2 separate regions of the Homo sapiens genome follow, and region 1 is linked to region 2. The links come from fine-mapping of genetic effects on gene expression. Tissue or cell type: whole blood. Region 2 holds a variant in brackets; the other region holds the start of a gene. All regions are shown on one strand. Distances are between the middles of the regions.

Evidence for each region. PIP is the estimated chance that this variant, and not a neighbour inherited with it, causes the effect.
Region 1: FUZ starts here. The variant in region 2 is fine-mapped to the expression of FUZ in whole blood (INTERVAL, PIP above 0.99).

The regions. Positions count from the first base shown.
Region 1 is chr19:49,809,373-49,817,372 of GRCh38, reverse strand. It overlaps FUZ (fuzzy planar cell polarity protein), which reads left to right and starts at 4,081. Exons shown (of 11, transcript NM_025129.5): 1 at 4,081-4,377; 2 at 4,637-4,758; 3 at 5,038-5,122; 4 at 5,674-5,742; 5 at 5,906-6,010; 6 at 7,798-7,995. The coding sequence starts at 4,267. It overlaps LOC105372435 (a long non-coding RNA gene), which reads right to left. Exons shown (of 2, transcript NR_187900.1): 2 at 7,547-8,000. RefSeq lists enhancers at 3,518-3,567, 3,778-4,017, 3,404-4,210 and a silencer at 7,877-8,000.
Region 2 is chr19:49,857,405-49,865,404 of GRCh38, reverse strand. It overlaps PTOV1 (PTOV1 extended AT-hook containing adaptor protein), which reads right to left. Exons shown (of 12, transcript NM_001394010.1): 7 at 7,623-7,712; 8 at 7,428-7,501; 9 at 7,291-7,348; 10 at 6,752-6,856; 11 at 5,222-5,419; 12 at 4,663-5,137. The coding sequence ends at 5,126. PNKP (polynucleotide kinase 3'-phosphatase) reads left to right here. Exons shown (of 17, transcript NM_007254.4): 4 at 1-278; 5 at 1,002-1,081; 6 at 1,169-1,226; 7 at 1,334-1,441; 8 at 1,645-1,716; 9 at 2,667-2,715; 10 at 2,797-2,867; 11 at 2,942-3,034; 12 at 3,124-3,220; 13 at 3,300-3,361; 14 at 3,524-3,633; 15 at 3,710-3,797; 16 at 3,895-3,956; 17 at 4,040-4,201. The coding sequence ends at 4,157. PTOV1-AS2 (PTOV1 antisense RNA 2) reads left to right here and starts at 6,116. Exons shown (of 5, transcript NR_110730.1): 1 at 6,116-6,199; 2 at 6,308-6,562; 3 at 6,779-6,851; 4 at 6,978-7,058. The variant G/CG (reference allele first, on the strand shown) is at 4,407.

The DNA.
Region 1 (8,000 bases), 48 kb after region 2:
ACATTCCAGGTGGATTAAAAATGTAAGTGCAACAAATGAAACCCGAAAACTATCTGAAGGGAAAAAATCTTAATGACTGCCATGGAGTTTCTTAGCACTACAGCAAAGTTAGAAAACGTAGTCTTCATTAATTTTTCCCAAAAGACTGTATAAACCAAGTTGAAAAATATACGGCCAACTGGGAAAATCTTTCTAGCGTGTTTGTTGACAGAAATGTACTACGCAAATAAATCTTACTGATGAATAACAATATAGAAAAATAGAAACACTTCATTACTATTATCTTTTAATTTTAATTTTTATTTTTTGAGGCAGGGTCTCTTTCTGTTGTGCAGGTTGAAGTGCAGTGGCCCAATCTTGGCTCACGGCAGCCTCTACTCGCACTGGAGCCACTCTTCAGCCTGTGGAGCAGCTGGGACCACAGCCGCGCACTACCACTTCCAGCTAATTTTTAAATTTTTTGTAGAGATGGGGTCTCACTGTGTTGCTCTGGCGTGTCTCAAACTCCTCGGCTAAAGCGATCCCAGGTGTTAGCCATCGTGCCCTGCCACTTTATATTTGTTTTAATAGAAAGAAACCTGACCAGGGCCGGACGCCGTGGCTCACGCTTGTAATCCCAGCACTTTGGGAGGCCAAGGCGGGCAGATCACCCGAGGTAAGGGGTTCAAGACCAGCCTGGCCAACATGGTGAAACTCCTTCTAACTACTAAAAATAAAAAAATTAGCCGTCCTGGTGGGCGTCTGTAATCCCAGCTACTTGGGAGGCTGAGTCAGGAGATTCTCCTGAACCCGGGAGGCGGAGGTTGCAGTCAACTGAGATTGTGCCACTGCATTCCAGCCTGGGCGGCAGAGTTAGACTCCGTCTCAAAAAAAATAAAAATAAATAAATAAAAAGAAACCTGACTAGTTTCACACAAACACACACACAAAATTTTGAATGGCCAGTAAATATTTTAAAACATAATCTTCGGCCGGGCGAGATGGCTCATGCCTGTAATTCCAGCACTTTGGGAGGTAGAGGCGGGCGCATCACGAGGTCAGTATCACTGGGCGTCGTGGTGCCCACCTGTAATCCCAGCAACTCGAGAGGCTGAGGCAAGGAGAATCGCTTGAACCCGGGAGGCAGAGGTTGCAGTGAGCCGAGATCACGCCACTGCACTCCAGCCTGGGCGACAGAGCGAGACTGTCTCAAAAAAAAAACAAAAAAAACAAAAAAAACAGGCCGGGCGCAGTGGCTCATGCTTGCAATCCCAGCACTTTGGGAGGCCAAGGCGGGCAGATCACGAGGTCAGGAGATCGAGACCATCCTTGCTAACACGGTGAAACCCCGTCTCTACTGAAAATCCAAAAAAAAAAAAAAAAAAATTAGCGGGGCGTGGTGGCGGGCGCCTGTAGTCCCAGCTACTCCGGAGGCTGAGGCAGGAGAATGGCGTGAACCCGGAAGGCGGAGCTTGCAGTGAACAGAGATCGCGCCACTGCACTCCAGCCTGGGGGACGGAGCGAGGCGCTGTCTCAAAAAAAAAAAAGTAATAATAATAATAATAATCACCAATTGAAAAGTACTTACAGAAAGCCTAATGATAAAGGTTTTTACCTTTATCATTTAAAATTATTTTTTATTGGGTTTCTATTTTTCTTTTATCTTTTATTTTTATTTTTATTTTTTTTTATTTTATTATTTTTTTTTTGACAAAATCTCGCTCTGTCGCCCAGACTGGAGTGCAGTGGCGCAGTGTCGGCTCGCTGCAGCCTCTGCCTCCCTGGTTCCACCGATTCTCCTGCCTCTGCCTCCCCAGTAGCTGGGACTACAGGTGTGTGCCACCTCGCAGGCAAATTTTTGTATTTTTGTTAGAGACAGGGTTTTACCATGTTGGCCAGGCTGGTCTCAAACTCCTGACCTCAGGTGATCCACCCGTTTTGGCCTCCTAGAGTGCCCGGATTATAGGCAGTGAGCCTGCGGAAGCCCTTTTTTTTTTGAGACAGTCTCATTTGCTGAAGCTTTTTTTTTTTTTTTTTTTTTGAGATGGAGTTTTGTTCTTGTTGCCCAGGCTGCAGTGCAATGGCACAGTCTCGGCTCACGGCAGCCTCCACCTCCTGGGTTCAAGCGATTATCCTGCCTCAGCCTCCCGAGTAGCTGAGTTTACAGGCATGCGCCACCACGCCCAGCTAATTTTGTATTTTTAGTAGAGCCGGGGTTTCTCCATGTTGGTCAGGCTGGTCTCGAACTCCAGACCTCAGGTGACCCGCCCACCTTGGCCTCCCAAAGTGCTGGGATTACAGGCGTAAGCCGCCGCGCCTGGCCTGCTGAAGCCTTCAAATCCATACAATCATATGATTTTACTCCTGTGTGCTTGGCAGGCATCTTTCCAATTTTATGAACACTTTCTTACATTACTAGTATGCCATTGTTACCTGTAACAAAATTAACTTCTTAGTATCATCCAACAGTAAGTGTGTAATCAAACGTTCCAATTGTCTCAAAATGTGTTTTTACAGTTGGTTTATTTGTATCAGGATCCAAACAAAGACCACACACATATTTAGACATTATGTCTCAAGTTTCTTTTCATCTAGAGCAGCCCCCTCTTTTATGCCTGTGTAACTAACATTTTAATAAAGTTGTAAGGAAGATAAAAGTAATCCAGAGAAAGGAAAAAAAATATCAATAGGCAAGAAGGAAGATTAAAATGGTACCTAGGCCAGGCATGGTGGCTCCTGCCTGTAGTCCCAGCACTTTGAGAGGCTGAGGTGGGTGGATCATTTGAGCCAAAGAGTTTGAGACCAGCTTGGGCAACATGGCGACACCCTGTCTCCACAAAAACTACAAAAATTAGCTGGACGTGGTGGGGGCACACCTGTAATCCCAGCTACTCAGGAGGCTGAGGCAGGAGAATCGCTTGAATCCTGGAGGCGGAGGTTGCAGTTAGCCGAGATGGTTCCACTGCACTCCACCTTGGGCGACAGAACGAGACCCTGTCCCCTCTCCCAAAAAAAAAAAAAAGAGAAAAAGATGTACTTTAGGAAGTAGGAAAATTAAAAATTATGCTAGAAAGATGGGCTGATCTGCAAGAAGGAAGAGGAAGGGAAAAATGAATCATAAATACTTTTGTCATTACAAGTAAATGCTGCCTGTGTAAAATAATAAAAATATTCATAAGGGCATTTTAAAAAGTCAGTAAAATGCTGTCCCAGCACTAGTTGGCTAGTCTGGAGGAGTTCAACAACCTAATGTACATCAATACAGAATTGGTCAAATCAATTTGTCACATCCATAAAATAGATTATAAAAATACATTATTAAGATGAAATAGACATACTTTTTCATGGCAAAAAAGAAAGTGTGGAAATGTTAGTATATTGATCATCTTTGTGAAAACGTATGAATAGTCTACGTTAAACTGTATTTTAGGAAAAAAATTGGGGAAGGGATTTTTCACATTTTACATGGTATGCTATCATGTATAAATTCATTACAGAAATGATATTATTTTTATTATTCTGGAAAATAAAGGATTTCCTTGTTTTCTTTTTTCTAATAACAAAAACAACCTTTTTTTTAGTGGTTACTAGGCAACGATCGCTGGACTCAACCACCCTCGAAGGTTGTAGGGGAGATGGTGTTTTTCTCGATTTCGCCCCAAGGAGGGTGCTCGGACTTCGACGTGCCGCCATCTTTGAGCAGGGCACAGCTGTTTACAGCCTTGGAATGGATATCAGGCTGAATGGTGGTTGCTTGGCAACGCCCCGCCACGGTCGCCATCTTTGAGTAGGGCACATTGTTTACTACTATATACTGGAAACCTACAGGGAATGTGGTTGCTAGGCAATGCTTTGGGACCATCGCAATCTTTGATCCGGGCACAGCTGTTTTTTCCGTTTAGAATGTAAATCATCAAAGCCTACAGGATGGTGGCTAGGCAACGCCTTGGCGCAGTCATCATCTTCAATCCGGCTTCTTGGTTCTCTTTACCTCCTCGGAGAAACTAGAAAGCTTTGCAAATTCAATTTGCCGCCATCTTTGTTAGGGGTACCGTGACTTCCGGCTAGGGCGGAAGAGAACCTAATGGGTTTGGGGGAGGTGCCTGAATAGGGTTTGAGGGTCTGTTTGAGTTGGGTGAAGAAGGCGGGAAGTTAATCCTCTTCCAATCAGCTCCCCATCTCGCCCTCTGGCGGCTCCGGACCACAGGCCGAGTTACTCTGATTACCGCCATGCTCCAAGACCCGCACTGACAGTCCCCACGTGAGGGACCGCGGTGGGAGTCCTAAATGGGGGAGGAGGGGACGGGCGGCACTGTGCATCTGCTGTGCCTCGCGGCCTCCAGCGGGGTCCCCCTATTCTGCAGGAGCAGTCGCGGCGGCGCCCCCGCCCGTCAGCAGGTGGGGCCTTGGACGCCTGTATCTAAACCGAAGGGGGTTCGGTGTTTTGACTCTGGGTCTTCAAGGCAGTAGGGGCTGGGGAAGTTTCAGTGTTGAATTTGTAGGACCGAGGAGGCAATGGACCAATAAGCCTGGTTCCCCAAAGAGGCACTGCCAGGTCATATGGAAAGAGGATGGGGCTGGGAGCTGGCACACTTGGGTCCTAAGGGGGAAGGGGATGGGGGGGTGCTCTTGTCTGATGTCCCTAACCCCTCCTTAGCTCCCGTTCTCTGTCATCGGTTCCCTCAATGGAGTCCACATGTTTGGGCAGAATCTGGAGGTGCAGCTGAGCTCTGCGAGGACCGAGAACACGACTGTGGTGTGGAAAAGCTTCCATGACAGGTCCCCAGGAGGGAACGTGGGACAGGGACAGGGCCTGGGTGATAGTCCCTGTTGAAGATGACCCCGGAGGCCTTCCAGCTCTCTAAAAGCAGCTGTTAATTTGGCTATGGGATCTTTAGCAAGCCAGTTACCCTCTTTGATCCCTGATGTTCTCTATAAGAAAGGCAGGTTGGTCTGAGAGAGGATGTATCTGGTGTTCTAGGATCAATGGGCGGACTCCAACATACCCCTTCCTGATTCCCCAGGCCTTGACTCATTCTTCTCACTTCCATTCCACAGCATCACCCTCATTGTTCTGTCATCTGAGGTGGGCATCTCTGAGCTGAGGCTGGAGAGACTACTCCAAATGGTGTTTGGAGCCATGGTGAGACTCACCAGTCCTCTTTTCTCCCCAGACCAGGAATCTGAGATCTCAGCATCCTTTTCCCTCAGACCTAGGAGTGCAGACCACCAACACTTCCTTCCTCAGAACCCAGGAATCTTTTGTTTGTTTGTTTGTTTTGTTTTGAGACGGAGTCTCGCTCTGTTGCCCAGGCTGGAGTGCAGTGGCTTGATCTCGGCTCACTGCAACCTCTGCCTCCCAGGTTCAAGCGATTCTCGTGCCTCAGCTTCCCAAGTAGCTGGGATTACAGGCACGTGCCACCATGCCCAGCTAATTTTTGTATTTTTTGTAGAGACGGGGTTTCACCATATTGGCCAGGCTGGTCTCAAACTCCTGACCTCAAGTGATCCACCCACCTTGGCCTCCCAAAGTGCTGGAATTACAGGCATGAGCCTCCGCGCCCGGCCAGAACCCAGGAATCTTGACTCCCCAGTCCCCAGACCCAGAAGTGGGAGTCCCAGCCCCCTCTTCCTTCAGACCCAGGAGTTCAAGTCCCAGCCCCTCGCCCATCCTCTCCTATATGATTCTTCTAGGTCCTTCTTGTGGGACTTGAAGAACTGACCAATATCCGCAACGTGGAGAGACTGAAGAAGGACTTGAGGGTGAGGTTGCAGGACATGAGGGTGGGAAGTTAGGATACCTGGGCACTGCCATTTGGGAACTACAGTTCCCAGCAGCCCCTGGGGCAGCCTGGTCCCACAGGTTCTTGGTTGTCTGACCCTGGGCCCACTTGAATCCTAGGCTGGTCCCTTCTTCCTCTCCTAGGCCAGTTATTGCCTCATCGACAGCTTCCTGGGGGACTCGGAGCTCATCGGGGACCTGACCCAGTGTGTGGACTGCGTGATTCCTCCAGAGGGGTCCCTCTTGCAGGTACTGGGGATGCTATGGAAACTCTTACACCTGTTCTGCTGGCCCTGGCTCAGTCCTCATCCTCTTTCTTCTGGACCATTGTCCCAACCTCCTCCTATCCTCTCAGCTTCCAGTCCTATCCCCACCTGGTCCCAGAAGAATCTTTTTTCTTTTTTTTTTTTCTTTTCTTTCTCTTTCTTTTCTTTTTTCTTTTCTTTCTCTCTTTTTATTTGAGACGTAGTTTCACTCTTGTTGCCCAGGCTGGAGTACAATGGCACCATCTCGGCTCACTGCAGCCTGCGCCTCCCGGGTTCAAGTAATTCTCCTGCCTCAGCTTCCCGAGCAGCTGGGATTACAGGCGCCCACCACTACGCCCGGCTAATTTTTTGTATTTTTAGTAGAGACAGGGTTTCACCATGTTGGCCAAGCTGGTCTCGAACTTCTTACCTCAGGTGATCCACCTGCCTTGGCCTCCCACAGTGCTGGGATGACAGGCGTGAGCCACTGCGCCTGGGCCATCTTTCTTTCTTTTCTGAGACAGGGTCTTGCTCTGTCATCCAGGCTAGAGCACAGTGGCTCAGTCATAGCTCACTGCAGCCTTGAACTCCTGGATTCAAGTGATCCTCTCATCTCAGCCTCCCCAGTAGCTGACACTATAGGCACTGTGCCACCACATTCAGCTATTTTTTTTTTTTTTTTTTTTTTGAGACAGAGTCTTACACTGTCACAGGGGCTGGAGTGCAATGGCGCAATCTTGGCTCACTGCAACCTCTGCCTCCTGGGTTCAAACGATTCCCCTGCCTCAACCTCCCGAGTAGCTAGGATTATAAGCGCTGGTCACCACGCCTGGCCCAGCTAATTTTTTGTATTTTTAGTAGAGACAGGGTTTCACTATGTTGGCCAGGCTGGTCTTGAACGCCTGACCTCGTGATCCACCCGCCTCAGCCTCCCAAAGTGCTGGGATTACAGGCATGAGCCACCGCGCCCGGCTGACATTCAGCTATTTTTTTTTTTAAGAGATGGACTAGGGTTGGGGATGGGTTTCCATTAAGTTGCCCGGGCTGGTCTCGAACTCCTGGGCTCAAGCAGTCCTCCCGCCTCAGCCTCCCATAGTGCTGGGATGACAGGTGTGAGCCATCACACCCGGCCACCAGAAGAACCCTACTATATCCAGAGCTGGCTCTGCCCCTTTCCTGCTCACAGCCCTCCGGCAGCCTCCACCTCCCCCAGGACAAGGTCCCAGCTCCTCAGCCTGGTGTTTGAAGGCCTGTGGCACCTGGCACCCCCTAACCTGTTGCTAAATCCACAGTCTACTTCCACCCAGCTACCTCACAGTCCTGAGATCCCAACAAGTTTCCAACCTCAGTGCATGTTCTTCCTCCTGCCTCTCAGATCTCTAGCTACCTCTACTTAAATACTGCTCTTGTGGACTTGCCTGGTGTGGCGGCCTCCCAGGCATGTGACTCTCAGCAGGTGACTTGGCTTCTCTACGTTGCTAATGGTGCCTACTCGGCATGTAACAGGCCTGGATGAACGGTAGCTGCTGCGGTTACATTATTAGCTTCAGTTTGCCCGCCCAGGCTAGATGTTTAATCAGATTTCACAGACTTCACAGTGTGAGTTGGGGATGTGACTTCGTATGAAAGTGAAGGAACTCAGGCTCAGAGAGGGTGAGACGTAGGAGCATGGCCACTGCGCGAGCTCGGGGCTGGCTGTGGGTTTCTCCCCATTCCCTGCCCATCTGGGAAGTCGCTGCCACCCCCTACGCTTGTCTGCTGACTCCCAGTCCTCCTGCCTCCCGTACCCAGGAAGCCCTCTCCGGGTTCGCTGAGGCCGCGGGCACGACCTTCGTCAGTCTGGTGGTGTCCGGCCGGGTGGTGGCAGCAACAGAGGGTTGGTGGCGGCTGGGGACGCCCGAGGCCGTGCTGCTCCCCTGGCTGGTGGGGTCCCTGCCGCCGCAGACCGCTCGCGACTACCCGGTGTACCTGCCGCACGGGAGCCCCACGGTGAG
Region 2 (8,000 bases):
CCGGGACCCAGGAGTTGAAGCCGGGGTTGGAGGGCTCTCTGGGGGTGGGGGACACACTGTATTTGGTCAATGGCCTCCACCCACTGACCCTGCGCTGGGAAGAGACCCGCACACCAGAATCCCAGCCAGATACTCCGCCTGGCACCCCTCTGGTGTCCCAAGATGAGAAGAGAGATGCTGAGCTGCCGAAGAAGCGTATGCGGAAGTCAAACCCCGGCTGGGAGAACTTGGAGAAGTTGCTAGTGTTCACCGCAGCTGGGGTGAAACCCCAGGGCAAGGTGAGGGCCACGCCGAGGGCTGAGGGAGCCGCCACAGACTGGGACCCAATCCCACGTTTGTTGCGTGCTCTCAACTTTTTAGCCTCTACTTACTTTTCTGAGAAATGGGCCTAATGATAAATGCAGGGATCGTTGTAAGCAGTTAAGCAGTGGGGAGAATGATATATGTCAGCTCCTGCGTTACCCACAGTGACCACCCAGTAATCAGCAATGACCATGACTGTCTCAGTAGGAGCTATTACGATGAGGATTTTTTATGTCCAGAGAGACTTGAGTTCAAATGCTGTTACCACCACATTCTGAGTCCCATGTGTCTCATCTCTACGATGCTGAATCCATAAAAAAAGCACGTGGCATAGTTCCTGACATGCAGTTAGCACCCAAAGCTTTGCTCCTGCTTTTATTTTCACGGTTATTAGCCCACCGAGGTGGTGAAGGCCAGGGGAAGAAGGAGGCTGGGTAAGACATTAACCCCCATTTTAAAGACTGTAATCCTGGGGCTGGCGTCATAAGGAGTAACAGGAGACAGTAAGGTTAAGATGTCGGGCCCCACTCAGAGGCATCACGGATGCTTGAGATGGAGGTGCTCTGTGACTCGGTTTCCCCATCTGTGAGATGGCAGTGATAACACCCTGCCTGGCAGGGTTGGTGTGAGTCAGCCTGTGAGTGAGGAGGGTCAGAGGTATCACAGTGCTGCTGTTTGTCTTTCCTTGGTGACACCAGGTGGCTGGCTTTGATCTGGACGGGACGCTCATCACCACACGCTCTGGGAAGGTCTTTCCCACTGGCCCCAGTGACTGGAGGTGATAAGAGGCAAAACAAGGGAGTGAGTGAGGCCTGGAGTCCACCTCTGGCCCCGGGTCACCCCTGCCGCTTCATACCTGCCGTAGGATCTTGTACCCAGAGATTCCCCGTAAGCTCCGAGAGCTGGAAGCCGAGGGCTACAAGGTATGTGCAGCCGCCTGTCTGCATGGGCACGTGCACGTGGCGGTCCGACCGCAGTCAGACCAAGGCCCTGGTGAGCAGAGCGTCTGGTGACACCCTTTGCTCCCCAGCTGGTGATCTTCACCAACCAGATGAGCATCGGGCGCGGGAAGCTGCCAGCCGAGGAGTTCAAGGCCAAGGTGGAGGCTGTGGTGGAGAAGCTGGGGGTCCCCTTCCAGGTATGGCTGGAAGGGAGGCTGGGAGCTATGTGGGGGCACAGAGATCCAGAGCGAGGGCTTTAGACTCCAGGGTAAGCGGGGCGGAGGCCTCAGGCAGTGTGATGCTGATAGGAACCCATCATCAGCTACAAATTCTGGGCTGGGGTGGCATCCAGTAGGTGCTTGAGGGGGAGCTAAAGCTGGTGGCCCCCTCCCATCCACAGGTGCTGGTGGCCACGCACGCAGGCTTGTACCGGAAGCCGGTGACGGGCATGTGGGACCATCTGCAGGAGCAGGTGAGTCTTGCAGCCTGCCCGGCCCCCCTCCTTTTCCTCACTCCAGCCCCTCACTCCTGGGCTCCCCGGCCTCCGGTTGGGGCCTCCTTACTCCTCTGTCCTCTCTCGCTCCCTCCTTCTGTTTTTTGCTGTGACATCTTAGATGTTGGTTTACGAGACCAGTGCTTTCAGACTTTCTACATCAGAGTAGTAGGGAAGCTGTTCATTCCTTCGTTCATTCGTTTGTGTGTGCATTTGTTCTGAAGTTTAGCGCATTCTTGAGCTGAAGGTATCAGTGAGCGGGACGGCCTGCTCCAGCAGGGCCCTCACGGCGAGGGCGGTGACTCTAGGCGGATGGGCAGACTGGCGTGTAAAACAGCAGGAGGGAGGGAGCTGGAGAAAGCAGGCATCACCCGTGGTGGGCAGGGATGGCCTCTGAGGAGGTGACATCAGAGGAAAAGGCCTAAGGCAGGGAAAGGAGGGAGCCAGGTGGACACCTGGGGAAAGCGGTCCCCCCCCTTGTGGGAGTGACAGCAAGTGCAAAGGCCCTGAGGCAGTCCCTAGCCTGGGCTAGTTAGGGACAGCGAGGCCCATGCGGCTGGCTCTAAGCGAGGGAGGGGAGAGGGCAGGGCCACAGGGAGGGCCCCGCTTTTGCCCTGAGGGAGGGGGAACCTGGGAGGCGCCGGCACGCCGGAGGCTGGAGCTGTAGCAGGGTGGGTGCCCTCCGGTGGCCGCGTGGGGAACGGGAGGAGGTGAAGTCGGGAGACCTGGAGGGAGGGGGCTGTGTGGAGAGACCACGGAGGGGGGAGGGGGCCAGGAGCACGGTGCAAAGTGGCTGGAGAGTGAGGACATGAAAGGTCGGGGGATGATTCCTGATGTGGGGCACAGACCAGGCGAAGCAGCCCCAGGGACCCGCTACCGCTGCGGGGGGACATTTGTGGGAAGGGCCTCCTCACTACCGTCTCCCGTAGGCCAACGACGGCACGCCCATATCCATCGGGGACAGCATCTTTGTGGGAGGTAAGGGCCTGGAGGCTGCTGAGGGTGGGCTGGGACGCCTCCCTCCGAGCTGGTGGGAACGGGGTGTCCCGTGTGTTCCAGACGCAGCCGGACGCCCGGCCAACTGGGCCCCGGGGCGGAAGAAGAAAGACTTCTCCTGCGCCGATCGCCTGGTGAGGCCCCTGCCCCCTGCCCCGCGCCCGAGCCCGACCCTGGCCTGTGTCTGATGTTCGTCCTCAACCCCTAGTTTGCCCTCAACCTTGGCCTGCCCTTCGCCACGCCTGAGGAGTTCTTTCTCAAGTGGCCAGCAGCCGGCTTCGAGCTCCCAGCCTTTGATCCGGTGAGGCCCTGGGGCGGGGGTGGGGGTGGGGATGGGAGGGCTCCCGGGGATGGGGACGGCATCTCACGCGTGTCCCCCGCCCCTCGCAGAGGACTGTCTCCCGCTCAGGGCCTCTCTGCCTCCCCGAGTCCAGGGCCCTCCTGAGCGCCAGCCCGGAGGTGGTTGTCGCAGTGGGATTCCCTGGGGGTAAGTGTCCTGTTCCTGTGCGCGTGCCCTGAGCCCCGCCTGGGTCCTAGGCCACCCACCGACACTGCCCCCCACACAGCCGGGAAGTCCACCTTTCTCAAGAAGCACCTCGTGTCGGCCGGATATGTCCACGTGAACAGGGTATGACCAGGCTTTTGCCGCCCCAAATCTATTATAAAGTTCCCATCTCCACCTCTCAACTGGTTTGGGGCGGCTTTCCTCCATCATTGCCTCCCCGTCCCCGCTCGGGGTCTTCTCTCCCCCTGGGTCTGCCGATCTGTTTGTGACCTCTCGTGTCCCCAGGACACGCTAGGCTCCTGGCAGCGCTGTGTGACCACGTGTGAGACAGCCCTGAAGCAAGGGAAACGGGTCGCCATCGACAACACAAACCCAGACGCCGCGAGCCGCGCCAGGTAGCGTGACCGCGGGGCCGTAGGTGGCCTGCGGCGGGGTGGGCGGGGCCTGCACATCCAGCTCCTTCCCCCACAGGTACGTCCAGTGTGCCCGAGCCGCGGGCGTCCCCTGCCGCTGCTTCCTCTTCACCGCCACTCTGGAGCAGGCGCGCCACAACAACCGGGTGAGCCCGCTCAGCCCGGACACCCCCCGGGCTGCACCCCCTGACCCCCCTCCTCCCCTGACCCCTGGGCCTGCCGCCCCTCTGATGTTCCCCACAGTTTCGAGAGATGACGGACTCCTCTCATATCCCCGTGTCAGACATGGTCATGTATGGCTACAGGTACTGTTGGGGATAGCAGGGGGCAGGGGCACTGGCTGGGCCACATGATCCAGGCTGTCCCTCACTGTTCCCACCACTGCCAGGAAGCAGTTCGAGGCCCCAACGCTGGCTGAAGGCTTCTCTGCCATCCTGGAGATCCCGTTCCGGCTATGGGTGGAGCCGAGGCTGGGGCGGCTGTACTGCCAGTTCTCCGAGGGCTGAGCCCCGCCCAGCTCCCCTCCACAATAAACGCTGTTTCTCCTTGAGCTTGGCCGGCATTTTGCTGGAAGGAGGGTGGTCCCCACGGGGGAGGGGCTCCAGGCCTGCCAGTTTCTTACATGGAGGAGGCTTTAAGGACATTTTCAGGTAACAAAAGGTGGGGCCCTACCGAGGGGAGTCCAGCTGGGACCTGGCATGAGCACTTTAGACATTAGCCGGGGAACACACAGGGAGGGCGCTGTGTGGCCCCCC[G/CG]AGAGCCAGCTGGTGAGCCCACGAGCCTCAACCGAGGGGCTGGCTCAAGGCCAGGTGTGACCCCTGAGGACAAAATCCAGCTCAGGTTCTGTGACACTGAACTTGAACCCAAGGCCTGCGGGTCTGGAGATTCGGGGGGGAAGAGGGTGTGGACAGCCGAGAGCCAGACCCAGTGAGTTCCCGGGCTGTCCAGCCTGCTGGGCCACCTTAGAGCTAGGGGGCTGCAAGGCATCGGGCAGTGAGCAGAGAAGGCAGGCAGGTTTTTAAAAGGCTTTATTGGGGAAACGTAGAGGGGTGGGGACCGTCCTTGGAGGCCTCAGGACACCATCCTCCATGTTGCTGGGCAGTTGAAGTCCCCAGGGGCCCCTGCTCAGAAGCGTGTCACCTGGGGGCAGGGGTGCAGTGGGGGCTGCTGGCCACAGGCTCCCAAGCACTGACCCCACATCCCTGTGAGCAGAGGCCTGGCCCCACCCAGGCCTGGATACCACCTCCCATGGCCCTGAGGCTGGGCTGCAGTTTCCCGACAGCCTAGGACCGCTGGGACTGCTGCCTCTCCCTCTGCTCTGCTCTCCCCAAGGCCAAGGTCGCCCTGCTTCTTTCCCAACCCCACCCCCCCCACATGCCCCAGGGTCCCTCCTGTACATGACAGGGTCACCACTCACCAGTCTCTGCGGGGGCCTCATCTGTGACTCCTGGAGGGGCCCAGCCCGGGGTAACCACTACCCCCCCATCTACGGCGAGAAATCAGAGGCCAGTGGTGAGCAGGCAGCGGGGGTGGAGGGAGACTGAGCAGCCCTGGAGGCCGGCCACCTCACCCCTCGTTGCTGTTGCTCCTGCTCCAGGTTCCGCTGCAGGACCTGCTGCTGGTTGGCAATGACACGCCGGATGCCGTTGACAAAGTTGCCCTGGTCATGGGGGATGAGGCCAATGAAGATTTTCTTCTCTGAAGAGTACAGGAGCATAAGCACGCGGATCTCACACGATGCTTTGTAGGAAAAGTGCACGCAGCCGGCCTGGCAGGCACAGGGCGTGGTGTCACCAGACAGCACCACAGGGACCAGCATCCCTCCAACCACGGCATCATGCCGTGGGCTCCATGAGCCAGGCACAGCCTAACTGCTCTGTCCTCACACCCCCCACCCACCCTGGAGGTGGGCCCCCTTATTGGGATGACACGGTGGCCAAGAGCAATGGGTGGGCCAAAGGCCAACAGGCTCTGTCGGGAAGGGCCCAAGAACCTGCATTTCAGAGCTCCTGGGCAGGCCAGGCTGTGTCTGGGGCCACCTCACCACAGCCACCTGAGCCAACCGGCCATGGCTTCAACTCAGGAGCCCGAGGGATCTGCAGCGGCCGGCCCAGCACAAGCAAGGGCTGAGGTACATGGAGCCTTTCTGGGTTTCCTTGAGGAAACTTTTTTTTTTTTTTTGAGACTGAGTTTCGCTCTTGTCGCCCAGGCTGGAGTACAATGGCATGATCTCAGCTCACTGCAACCTCTGCCTCCCGGGTTCAAGCCATTCTTGTGACTCAGCCTCCTGAGTGGCCATCATGCCTGGCTAATTTTTGTATTTTTAGTAGAGACGGGGTTTCACCATGTTGGCCAGGCTGGTCTCAAACTCCTGACCTCAGGTGATCCACCCGCCTCGGCCTCCCAAAGTGCTGGGATTGCAGGCGTGAGCCACCGCACCCGGCCCCTGAGGGAATGCTTGAAATTGCTTTCATGTAAAAGCACCTACACCCAGGCCCCCCCCACCCACGAACAGCTTCGTGGACAGTTTACTCAGACTGAGTCGAAGGTAATTTTAAGGTAGTTTCGGGATATTACCCAAGTATGGCCCAGCTGGAAGGTGGACATCGGGGGGAGGGCTCAGAAACACCAAAGTCCAACCTTCTCCACCTCACAGATGGAGAAACTGAGCCCGAGAGAGAGAAGAGGAGTCAGCTGAGCCTCCCCCAGATAAGACAATCGCCAAATATTCTGGGACCTTGCTGGGGGCAGACAGCCCTCCCTGCCCAGCAATGGGCCTTTGGGATGTGGCACAAGCTCCCGGGAAACCAGGAGTGACAAGGGCGCCTGTCCCTGAGGAGTGGAGAGCGCGGAGTTGGTGCTGAGTCAGCCCTGATGTGGCAGAGGAGGAGCAGGCCCCCGCAGAACCAGGGTCAGTGCCCCATCCAGTGCCGTGGGGACAGCACAGAGCCCCCAGAAGTCACGCCCACACTAGCCACCCTCTCTCCCCAGCTGGTCTGGGACATGGTGCTCTGTTCCTCTCCCATGTCCGCCCCCGTGAGCGGTCCGGGCTCGCTCTGCCCTGGCCGGCCCCTCCCCTGCGTCTGCTGGCACCACTCACGAAGCCATTGTCCATGATCCGGCACAGGCTCTTCAGTGTCTCCAGGTCCTTGGTGAAGTGGAACTGGACCAGGCGCGAGTTCCGGAACAGCGGCACTAGGGTGGTCTGCGGGGAAGCGAGGGGACCCCCAGCTCTGGCTTCTCCCACCACGGCCTCCCGGCTCCCAGCCCGCTGAGTCCCCCGGGCCCAGGACCAAACTGAGACTCCCCTGTCCTCCCTACCTCAGGAAACGTCATCTCCACCGCTCAACCAGCCCAACCCTGGAGTGCTGTGGAAGCCGCTCTCAGATCCCTTGGCAGCCCCCCAGGTGCAGGTCGTGGCTGCCCCTGCCCCGCTCAGTCCCTGCACAGCCACCAGCTGGCTGCCTGGGACCCCTTGAAGCCAAGCCTGAGGAGCTACCCACCACACCTGCTTCAGCACCCTCAGCTCCGCTCCCTCACAGCCAGCTCAGGCCACCTGGGGAGGCGCTCTTGCCCCCAGCCCCGCCCTCTGGAAGAGCTACTGCGTGCAGGCTCCAGCACCCGGCCCCAGCCCCTCACCAGCAGCTGCTGCGGGATGAGCTGCATGTACAGCTTCCTTGGCCACTGCTCGGTCCTCCTGTGGGGCACAAAGGGACGAGGGTCAGGAAGCCCCAGCTCCCCTGGATGCTGCCTCCACCCCCCAGCCCAGCACTCACAGGATCTCCCCCTGGTTCACGTAGACGTGGGATGGCAGCCACCTCTTGGACCGACTGTTGGGCTCAGGCCTGGGCTTTTGGGGGAGAGGCAAAGAGGAGCCCTCAGGGCTGGAGACCCCCAATGCCAGTGTCCCCTCCCAGCCACAGTCCGTGAGGATCTGGGGGTCCCAAGTCCCTGGGCTGCCGAGTGCTCACCTCCTGCCACTCCATGACACCACTCCATGCCAGAAACTTGTTGTTGACGATCTGGACTGGGCCTGAGTTGACACCACCAGGTCCCACTGCCTGTTGGAAGGGAACGGGGTGGGAAGAGGGGCCCAGGCTCCTGGGAAACCTGTCTGTCTGTCCTGGGGCCTGCCATCCCTCCCTCCGAGCCTTGGCCTGTTAGCCCCAGCTGGGTCCATTCTCTAGTCCCAGGGGAACAGGCCCTGCCCCTCATCTGCTCACAGCCCCCCATGGCTCCCCAGTGGCCTGAGACAGGTCCCGGCCCTCACCTGGTGCACAGGACCTGCAGAGTCTGCCTCAACTGGCAAGGCATGACCAGGACACGTGGTTACCAGGCAGGGCCTTCCA